Linked DNA regions of Homo sapiens: region 1 is linked to region 2. The links come from fine-mapping of genetic effects on gene expression. Tissue or cell type: lymphoblastoid cells. Region 2 holds a variant in brackets; the other region holds the start of a gene. All regions are shown on one strand. Distances are between the middles of the regions.

Region 1 (4,246 bases), 110 kb after region 2:
TTACTCATAAAGGGTGCTTCCTCTAGACCTTCTTATTGTCCTGAATTCCTATTTCATTAGCAAAAGTACATTTACATGAAATATATATATATATATATATATATATATTTCATATATATGAATCTGGCATAAATATGGATGCATACTTCCCATTATTAAAATTAGAATTCTTTAAACAAAACAAAATTTTCCTCTATTTTCAATTCTTGTCACTTCTGCCATTTGCTGCTTGAAGTCCTTAAAAAATATTATGTCTTCTGAATGCTTTCTAAGACTATAGAGAATATTGGTTGAATGAGGTTTAGAGTTGGCTAAAGGAGGGCTTTTTTGACCAGAAGTTGATTCTCTGAAGTTTTTTGTGTGTCTTTAACTTGTTTTTTTCCACTGATTAATCTTTCATAGTATGTAGTTATAATGGTAACCATCACGTACATCTGACCTACAATAAAGAAGAAAATGGACAGAAAAAAGATTATTAACTTTTCTTCCTTTTTTGTTCTTCTGTAGGTCTCATTCCTGTCAGTTAGACTTGAGGTCATGCTATTTCCTGTTGGGGTCACGAGGATGAATTAGTGATTAGACACTTAGGTGCTGGACTCAAAGGGACCTGGCTCCATCACATGCAAACTTTTTGTAAAAGAAGGTACATTGTTTTATAATGTGCGTTTTTGGTTGAATATTAAACTAAAACTTGAGAGCAATCTAGCTCAGGTAGACACTGGTGTCCTGAAATCATTTGCAATACATTTAAACTAAGATATACTAGATAAAGATATTAAAACAAAAGAAAAGGTTTAGATTTTATTCCATATTTCATTTATATTTTTACCAAACACCTATTGAATATCTAATATGTTCTAGGGAATGGACTTGGATCTAGAAACTTAAGAGTGAATGTGCAAATGCCTAGAATCTGTTCTGGTAAGAAATTCACTTCAGTAAAAAACAATACTAATATTATCAATAATAATCCATAATGTGATTTTTTAAAGCCAACTCATTTAATCTATTATATCTATATAATAGATTAGATTATAATCTAGACTGTATAATCTATAGTCTAGATTATAGACATTTAATAAAAACAAATTGAATTTTGTAAAAAAAGTACTTAATATACCTAGTAAAGTTTTATATGCCAAGTTTGTATTTTAATAATATTTTTATTTTAATAAATATCAGGAAGAAATAAACATAAAACATAGGAAGTGCATGTTCAGGTTATCTATTGTCATATTACAAACCACCTGAAAACTCAGTCGTATAAAACAACAATTATTTTTAAATTTTTGAACAGCTTTATATATAATTGACATATAATAAACTGCACATTTTAAAGTGCACACTTTGATAAGCATACATAGGTACACACCTGTGAAACCATCGCCAAAATCAAGATCATGACCGTATCCACAAATTTCATGATTCTGTAGGTCAAGGATTAGAGCAGCCATAAGCAGAGAGTTTGTCCCTGATACACGATGTTTTTGGCCACAGCTGTAGTTGTTTGGATAGCTGGGGGCTCCTGGGATGGCTAGAGTGGGATCATATGCCTGGAGTCTTCATTCTTCTCCATTGGATGTTTGCTGGGATGAGAAGGTCCAAGATAGTCCTTTGATAATGTGTCGTGGTGCCTGGGCTGGGATGGCTGAAACACAGGAGACCTAGCAGAAATTCTCTATACTCACCGCCATCTCCGGATAGTCAGACTTCTCACTCGGCAGCTGGCTTCCCCCAGGTCCGAAGTTCAAGAGACTTTCAAAAGACAGGAAGTGAAAGCTGCCAGTCTCTTTCAGCCTGAGCCCGAGACACTGGCACAGTTTTACTTCCACTATGCTTTATTGGTCAAAGCAGTCTCTGAGCCCACCCAGATTCTGGGAAAGAAGGACATTGACACCACCTCTTGATGAGATAATGTCAAAGAATTTTGACCATCTTTAAAGCACCACAACGCATGTTGGATATTCTATATTCCTGAGTGAAAGAAGACTTCAATTTGGTCACATGAACAAACTATTTCTGTGTTTTACAAGGGCAATAGTAGGGAAAGGAGGTGGTAGTAATATCAGAATTTCCATCAACTCTTCTGTCTTCGTTGCTGTTTATCAAGTAATGTTCTTCAAACAAACTGGAGTTGCTATGCCTTGATATGGTATAAATGAGTGTGTTTTGGATACAAATACACATGGTAAAGGTAATATGGTAAATACCATTGTTTATTTATATTATTTATATTATATTTATATTGTTTATTTATATTAATGGTATACTTTAGCCAAGTAAGTTTTTATCAAGATTCCAAAATATTATTGAGACATAATCAATTCAGTAAAAAACTATTTGAGATGGACACATCGGATTCTAGTGATGTTACTCCCCCAGGGTCTTACCCTATTGGGAATCTATTGTATAACTCACATATAACTGTACCTTTGGCCAGGCGTGTTGGCTCACGCCTGTAATCCCAGCACTTTGAGAGGCTGAGGTGGGTGGATCAATGGGTCAGGAGATCAAGACCATCCTGGCCAACATGGTGAAATCCCATCTTTACAAAAATTAGCTGGGTGTGGTGGCACACGCCTGTAATCCCAGCTACTCGGAAGGCTGAAGCAGGAGAATCGCTTGAACCCAGGAGGTGGAGATTACAGTGAGCCAAGATCGTGCCATTGCACTCCAGCCTGGTGACAGAACAAGACTTTGTCTAAAAAACAAACAAACAACTGTACCTTTATAAAAATTCCATCTTTTAAAAGTCTATAAATGGATCTGTTACATTTTAACAAACTACTAGAGGTAATTTCAAATAGATCACTTCAAATTTTCTGAATAAATATAATCTGTTGTGAGGATAGCATCTTGAAGAAATGTTATCAAGCCGTGGTAAAAATATATCTTTCCTTATATGTTCAACCACCATGTGAAATGTGTGAATCTAGCATAAAATGCAGTAAAAAAAAATTTTTTTTAAGTCAGTGAAATAAACTAAGTAAATTTTTCAAGAGAATGTTTTTATTGTGATCTTTTGAGTAGCACAAGGGAAACACAAAGTATAAATACGGTTTTTATACATGGAAAGGGGACACGTGACTCATTTAAGAGGAGCTAAATAATTATTAACAATTGTTTGTATTATTTAAATATTTGTTCAATGGCAGTGGCTACTACTTGTAAAGAAAGAGATACCCCATATCATCCTTTTGGATTCCACTTAACCATAAATAGTCATCTTGGTGGCCCAGTGGCCCTTGTTTCATAAATTTCTCACTGTACCACCATCCTAAAACATCTCTTCTGGCTAAAGCACACAGGAATGCAAAGAAGGAAGATAGACTCTTTATGAGTGCACATGTCCTTGCATACCTGTATTTCTATATCAGGGAGATCACAAAGAACCATTAAAAATGTAAGCCATTTGGAACACTAGAGCTAGAGGAGTGGCCAGATGGTAAAGATCTTGATCATATAGTACATCTGAAGGTGATGTATAGGGGCAGGAAGTATCTGCCACAGAACAGAGTTTAAGGCAGCGACATTCCTTGGGAGAGAAGTGGCAGCACTAAAAACAAGCAGTGAAAGCACCACATTTCCTTTGTTTTGGGTATCTTATACCTTTGGTTACTGAATGCTAAAGTCAAATCTCACGTCTGTTTCTTTAAGAAGCTCATGTCAAGATTTTTATTATTATTTTTTATTTTTTACAAGGTTATATCATTTCCATGGAGTTGGGGGATCACGTAACCAAGGTGAAAAGCAATTAAAATTAATTATTGTGATAGAGGTTAAGCTAGGTTAAAATACCTACCCAACCATCAACATTCCAGACTTCTAATGGAGATCTGTGTGTGCAGGGTGGTAAATAAGGGTTTGGCGTGTGGGGTATTAATTAATTAGCATCAGAAGAGAGAGAAGTCACACATGGTAGACAGTAAATATAGCTGGAGAAAAAAGACTCAAAAATATTTCTGTATTGCTGAGCCTTAAGTTCTAGAGTTTCAAACATGCTTGTTCAAAATGTAGCTTCTTTGTTCGTGGTCAACAAATTCCTCCCAGATGATGTCAGAAAGAGTGCCTTTATCTTTGGAACCCAGTGCAGGCCTAAAGTTTATTTCATATGGTATCAATACTTACTGAGAGTGTTTTATATATGATCCATTGTGCTAGGTTTTCAGGACACAGCCATGAAAAAGACAGGTTTCCTGCCCTTGAGAAGCACACAGGCAATAGGCAAGATTTTAAACATAATTAA
Region 2 (4,246 bases):
CAAGAGTTAAAGAACTTTAAAAGGAAATATTCTTGTCAACAAAAATCGGGTTTAAATGTATGATAAGGTACTCATACTTATTTCATACACATTTATACACTTATTCAGTGTGTGTGGCTTGTTTTAAGATCAAAATTCATATGGGTTTGAATGTAGTCACCATTTCAACATCTCAGTCCCTGCAGCTGATGCTGATATTGATGTTTCCCGTTAAGAGAAAAATCCCGTTTTTTAGGCTGACACAGGAAATACCACTCAGCACTGGAATACATATGAAAATCAGGAAATTTTCAAAGATGTAATGCAGGAAATCAACCAGGGAATATTCAAATTGTCACAATGTGCTTAATATTTTAAACATTTCTTCCTCTTTTAAACAAATGCTGAGCAAAGCTTCCTGTGTTTCAAAAGCAACACTGATGGACTCTCAAAATGGCAAGTCCCACATATTTACCATCTCTTCTCTTCACCCTGAATTTATTTTCCTGACTCAAGGTAGTTTCCAGGGCTTAAAAGATGGCCTATGTGGCACTTAAATGTATTTATGTTTAAACTCCTGTCTTCATGGAGTAGATAAGAAGTAAAATCAGCCATTGTCATGGACAACTTGCTCCTCTGAGTTCTTAACTGTTTTGGGGGGAAAGTGAAATATCAAGGAGTAAGAAACCTGTTTTCAGTTCTTGAGAGACTTACAGGCCAAGTGAGAAGAGGTGATATAATGCTAGGAACATAAACACAAGGCACTGTTATCTGTGTTTCTTTACCTCTAAAATGTGGGAATATTACTTACTTGGTGATAAGATTAGAAAAAATGATTGTTGCAAAGCACTCAGGCACATATAAGTGCTGTATTAAAGATCATTATCATTGAAGAGGAATTCCCAGATGAGTAATTTTAAAAGATGAAGGTGAGCTCAGATACTGGGGAGAAGCAGCTGTCAAGAACAGATGAGACAGTCTGAGGCAGCCCCGGAAAAGTTTCTTGGACAAAGCAGGACTTATACTGGGCCTTGAAAATTTAGAAAGACCAGCTAAAAGGCAAAGAAAGTCTCTGTTTACTTCCAAAAATGGAGATTGGCAGGACTATCTGAGGTGATGACACATTCCTTGAAACTCCTTTCTTGGGTGATCCTGACAGACTGATTTCCCATATCTTTTAAACCTGTTTTTCCAACTAAGTGCAAACATTAGAGATGAGCTCATTTACAATTTAGTCCTAACCCAAATTTGCCCCAGTTCAAACTCCTCCAGAGGACAACCTGAGAGCACTCACTAGCCAATACTTTCTGAAAAACCTCTACAACAGGGCAACACTCTGAAGACCCTTGGAGATCAGTGGGGAATGGGTTTGAGAGCAAACTGAAGCCACCTTTCAACATAAGTCAAAGTTAACCAGGCAATTCCTTTCTAGTCACCATGGACAAGTGAAAGCCCCACACCCCTTGAGTCAATGGGAAGTCATTTCTTAACTCCCTTTTGAGAAATGCTGCTGGTGATTCAGCACTACATCCTGGCTCACTGGGACACTGTAAGTGAAATTTCCTTTAACAGCCACCCCACCACCTTGTGAAAGGTGAGTTTCCCAGGCTAGAATTACTCATGAGCACTCTTGCTACGAGAGGAGAGAGGGTCAGAGGGTCAGAGGTTCAAGGGAAGTCTTTCCTTCACCAACATCGGAGAGACTCCAGAAGCCTCTTTGAGTCAGTACTGTATAATTTACTATCCAAACTGGGAACGTTTTGAGAATAAAATGTGGCACCACTAATAATTGTGCAGCAACAACAGATGGAAATGGGGGAATTTCCAGTCAAATCAGAACACAGGATTATTCTTTTTTCTCTTTTCTTTTTTTTTTTTTTTTTTTTTTTTTGAGACGGAGTTTCACTCTGTCACCCAGGCTGGAGTGCAGTTGCACGATCTCGGCTCACTGCAACCTCCACCCTCCGGGTTCAAATGATTCTCCTTCCTCAGCCTCCTGAGTAGCTGGGACTACAGGCGCCTGCCACCGTGCCCAGCTAATTTTTTGTATTTTTAGTAGAGATAGGGTTTCACCATCTTGGCCAAGCTGGTCTTGAACTCCTGACCTCGTGATCCACCCGCCTCGGCCTCCCAAAGTGCTGGGATTACAGGCATGAGCCACCGCGCCTGGCCTTTCTT[G/GT]TTTTTTTTTTGAGATGGAGTCTTGCTCTGTCACCCCAGGCTGGAGTGCAGTGGCACGATCTTGGCTCACTGCAGCCTCAGCCTCCTGGGTTCGAGCAATTCTCTTGCCTCAGTCTCCTGATTAGCTGGGATTACAGGCACCCACCACCACGCCTGGCTAATTTTTGTATTTTTAGTAGAGATGGGGTTTCACCATGTTGGCCAGCTGGTCTTGAACTCCTGACCTCAAGTGATCAGCCCACTTCAGCCTCCCAAAGTGCTGGGACTACAGGCGTGAGCCACCGCGCCTGGCCAGAACACAGGATTATTCTGTCTTTAGGTTGTGAGGTCTCATCTTCTAAAAATAAAGACATCCATTTGTCAAGGATTTACTAAGTGTATACTATGTGACATTGTGATATATGCTAGAGATAGTATATTAGCTGTTTTTGCCCCAGAGACCTCAGACTAGTAGGGGTAACCAACACACACACACTGGCATTTATAAAGCACTGTGGAGGTCAGGGACCCTGGGGAACACCTAACACACCTTGCAGAGTCAGAGATAGCATCCCGGAGGAGATACCGACCTATCTATTAATATGTCTTCATTAGGCAATGAAGAAGGCTAACTGAATTCTGGGCTTAAAAATAGCATGTAGTGTCATTGAAAAACAAAAATATCTAATATTTATGGACCAGTTACTGTGTCCTGGCCATTCTACATGTAATAACTCATTTAGCCCATACTTCTAGGACCTCCATCTTGCAGATAAGGAAATAGTAAGTAATTTCCAAGATATACCAGTATTAAAACACTAAAAGCATCTGTGTCCTTTTCTCTGAATCTTGTTTTGACCAAGAGTACATGGAAGTGATGCTATGAGACTTCTGAGGCCAGGTTACAAGAGACCAAACAGCTTCTACCTGGTTTTCTGGAACATATGTGTTGGATCTCTGAGATCCCAATAAAATGCCCACCTACCTGGAAATCACCATGCTGGAGTGGTGACCTGAAGGCACTCCAGTTGACAATCCCTGCTGAGTCCATCTTTCAGCCATTGCGGTCCAGGAACCAGGCAAGTGAGAAACCATCATAAAACAGATCCTCCAGACCAGCATAGATGAGCTGTCCCCACTGGCCTTTCTCTGAATCTGGACCCACTGAATTTGTAGCCTTAAATATTTCTTGTTTTATACCACTGTTTTAGTGGTTTGCTTCATAGCAATAGTAGTAACCAAGTCACAAAAACACAGGCCTAAGCAGGCAATGAAAAAGGATTCAAATCCAGAAAATCTGACATTGAAAACCATTCCTTTAGCTCTTGTTTCCCAAGAAACATAGCTTCTTTGTAGACATACCGGTATCTGTGGTTGCTGACATAGGCAGTTCAGTGCAGAGAGTGATTTGAGATGGATTGGGGGAGAAAACAAGCATCCATCAAGTTATAGAAGTCTTTATAAACCACATTAAGGAGTGTGGAGCCATAGGAAGCCATTGAGAAATTTTAGAGCAGTAGAATGTTGCACTCAGCTTCATGTTTTAGAGGGATTTCTTTGGTGGAAGAAGATCTTGAGGCAGGCAAGATTGGAGGCATTTAGGCAAGTATTAAAGCAATTCAAGGGAGAAGAAAGCAACAGCAGTGACAAAACAGAGGAGAACAAAGGGGGAAAATCAAGAAAGAAATAGCAGCTAGACAGAGGACAATTGTTGAATGTTGCTTTCTATCTAGTTCCAAAAAATACTCTATAATCATTCAGTTACCAAATCTGAAGCTAGAGAAAATTTAGAGAGGTACAGATGATTAGGAAAGACCTCCAGAGATGCACCGTAGTCAATATTCAGGACCACTCTTGCCCTGTAGACTGAAAAGTTCAGCTACACCCTTTCCTCCCTTTTCCTTCCTTTCCCTTCCCTTGCAGATGGTAGAAAGAGGACAAAGTATGAAAAAAGATTAATTATATATAGTCATTTTGAGGAAATATAACTATATTGTCAATAATGAGAGCCAGGTTTCTCACTGTCAAAGAAAGTGAAAGAAAAGTCTGGAAATAAACCTGAAATTATGAACTGGAATTGCAAGTATTGGAATAAACTTATAGTTTTAGA

Alleles and levels. Positions count from the first base shown, and alleles are read on the strand shown. Sizes are in standard deviations (SD) of each study's normalised expression.
For the expression in lymphoblastoid cells of the gene that starts at base 1,726 in region 1, GT is the high allele of the variant in region 2 and G is the other (moderate effect, 0.40 SD a copy in GEUVADIS).

Evidence for each region. PIP is the estimated chance that this variant, and not a neighbour inherited with it, causes the effect.
Region 1: it holds the start of MROCKI, and the variant in region 2 is the best candidate, but not a certain one, in a credible set for the expression of MROCKI in lymphoblastoid cells (GEUVADIS, PIP 0.55).

What each region holds. Positions count from the first base shown.
Region 1 is chr6:113,871,622-113,875,867 of GRCh38, forward strand. It overlaps MROCKI (MARCKS cis regulating lncRNA promoter of cytokines and inflammation), which reads right to left and starts at 1,726. Exons shown (of 3, transcript NR_038863.2): 1 at 1,373-1,726. LOC124901382 (a long non-coding RNA gene) reads left to right here and starts at 1,784. Exons shown (of 3, transcript XR_007059716.1): 1 at 1,784-2,202.
Region 2 is chr6:113,762,561-113,766,806 of GRCh38, forward strand. No RefSeq gene overlaps it. Among named protein-coding and RNA genes, the nearest start is that of MARCKS, 93 kb to the right of the region's middle. The variant G/GT (reference allele first, on the strand shown) is at 2,158.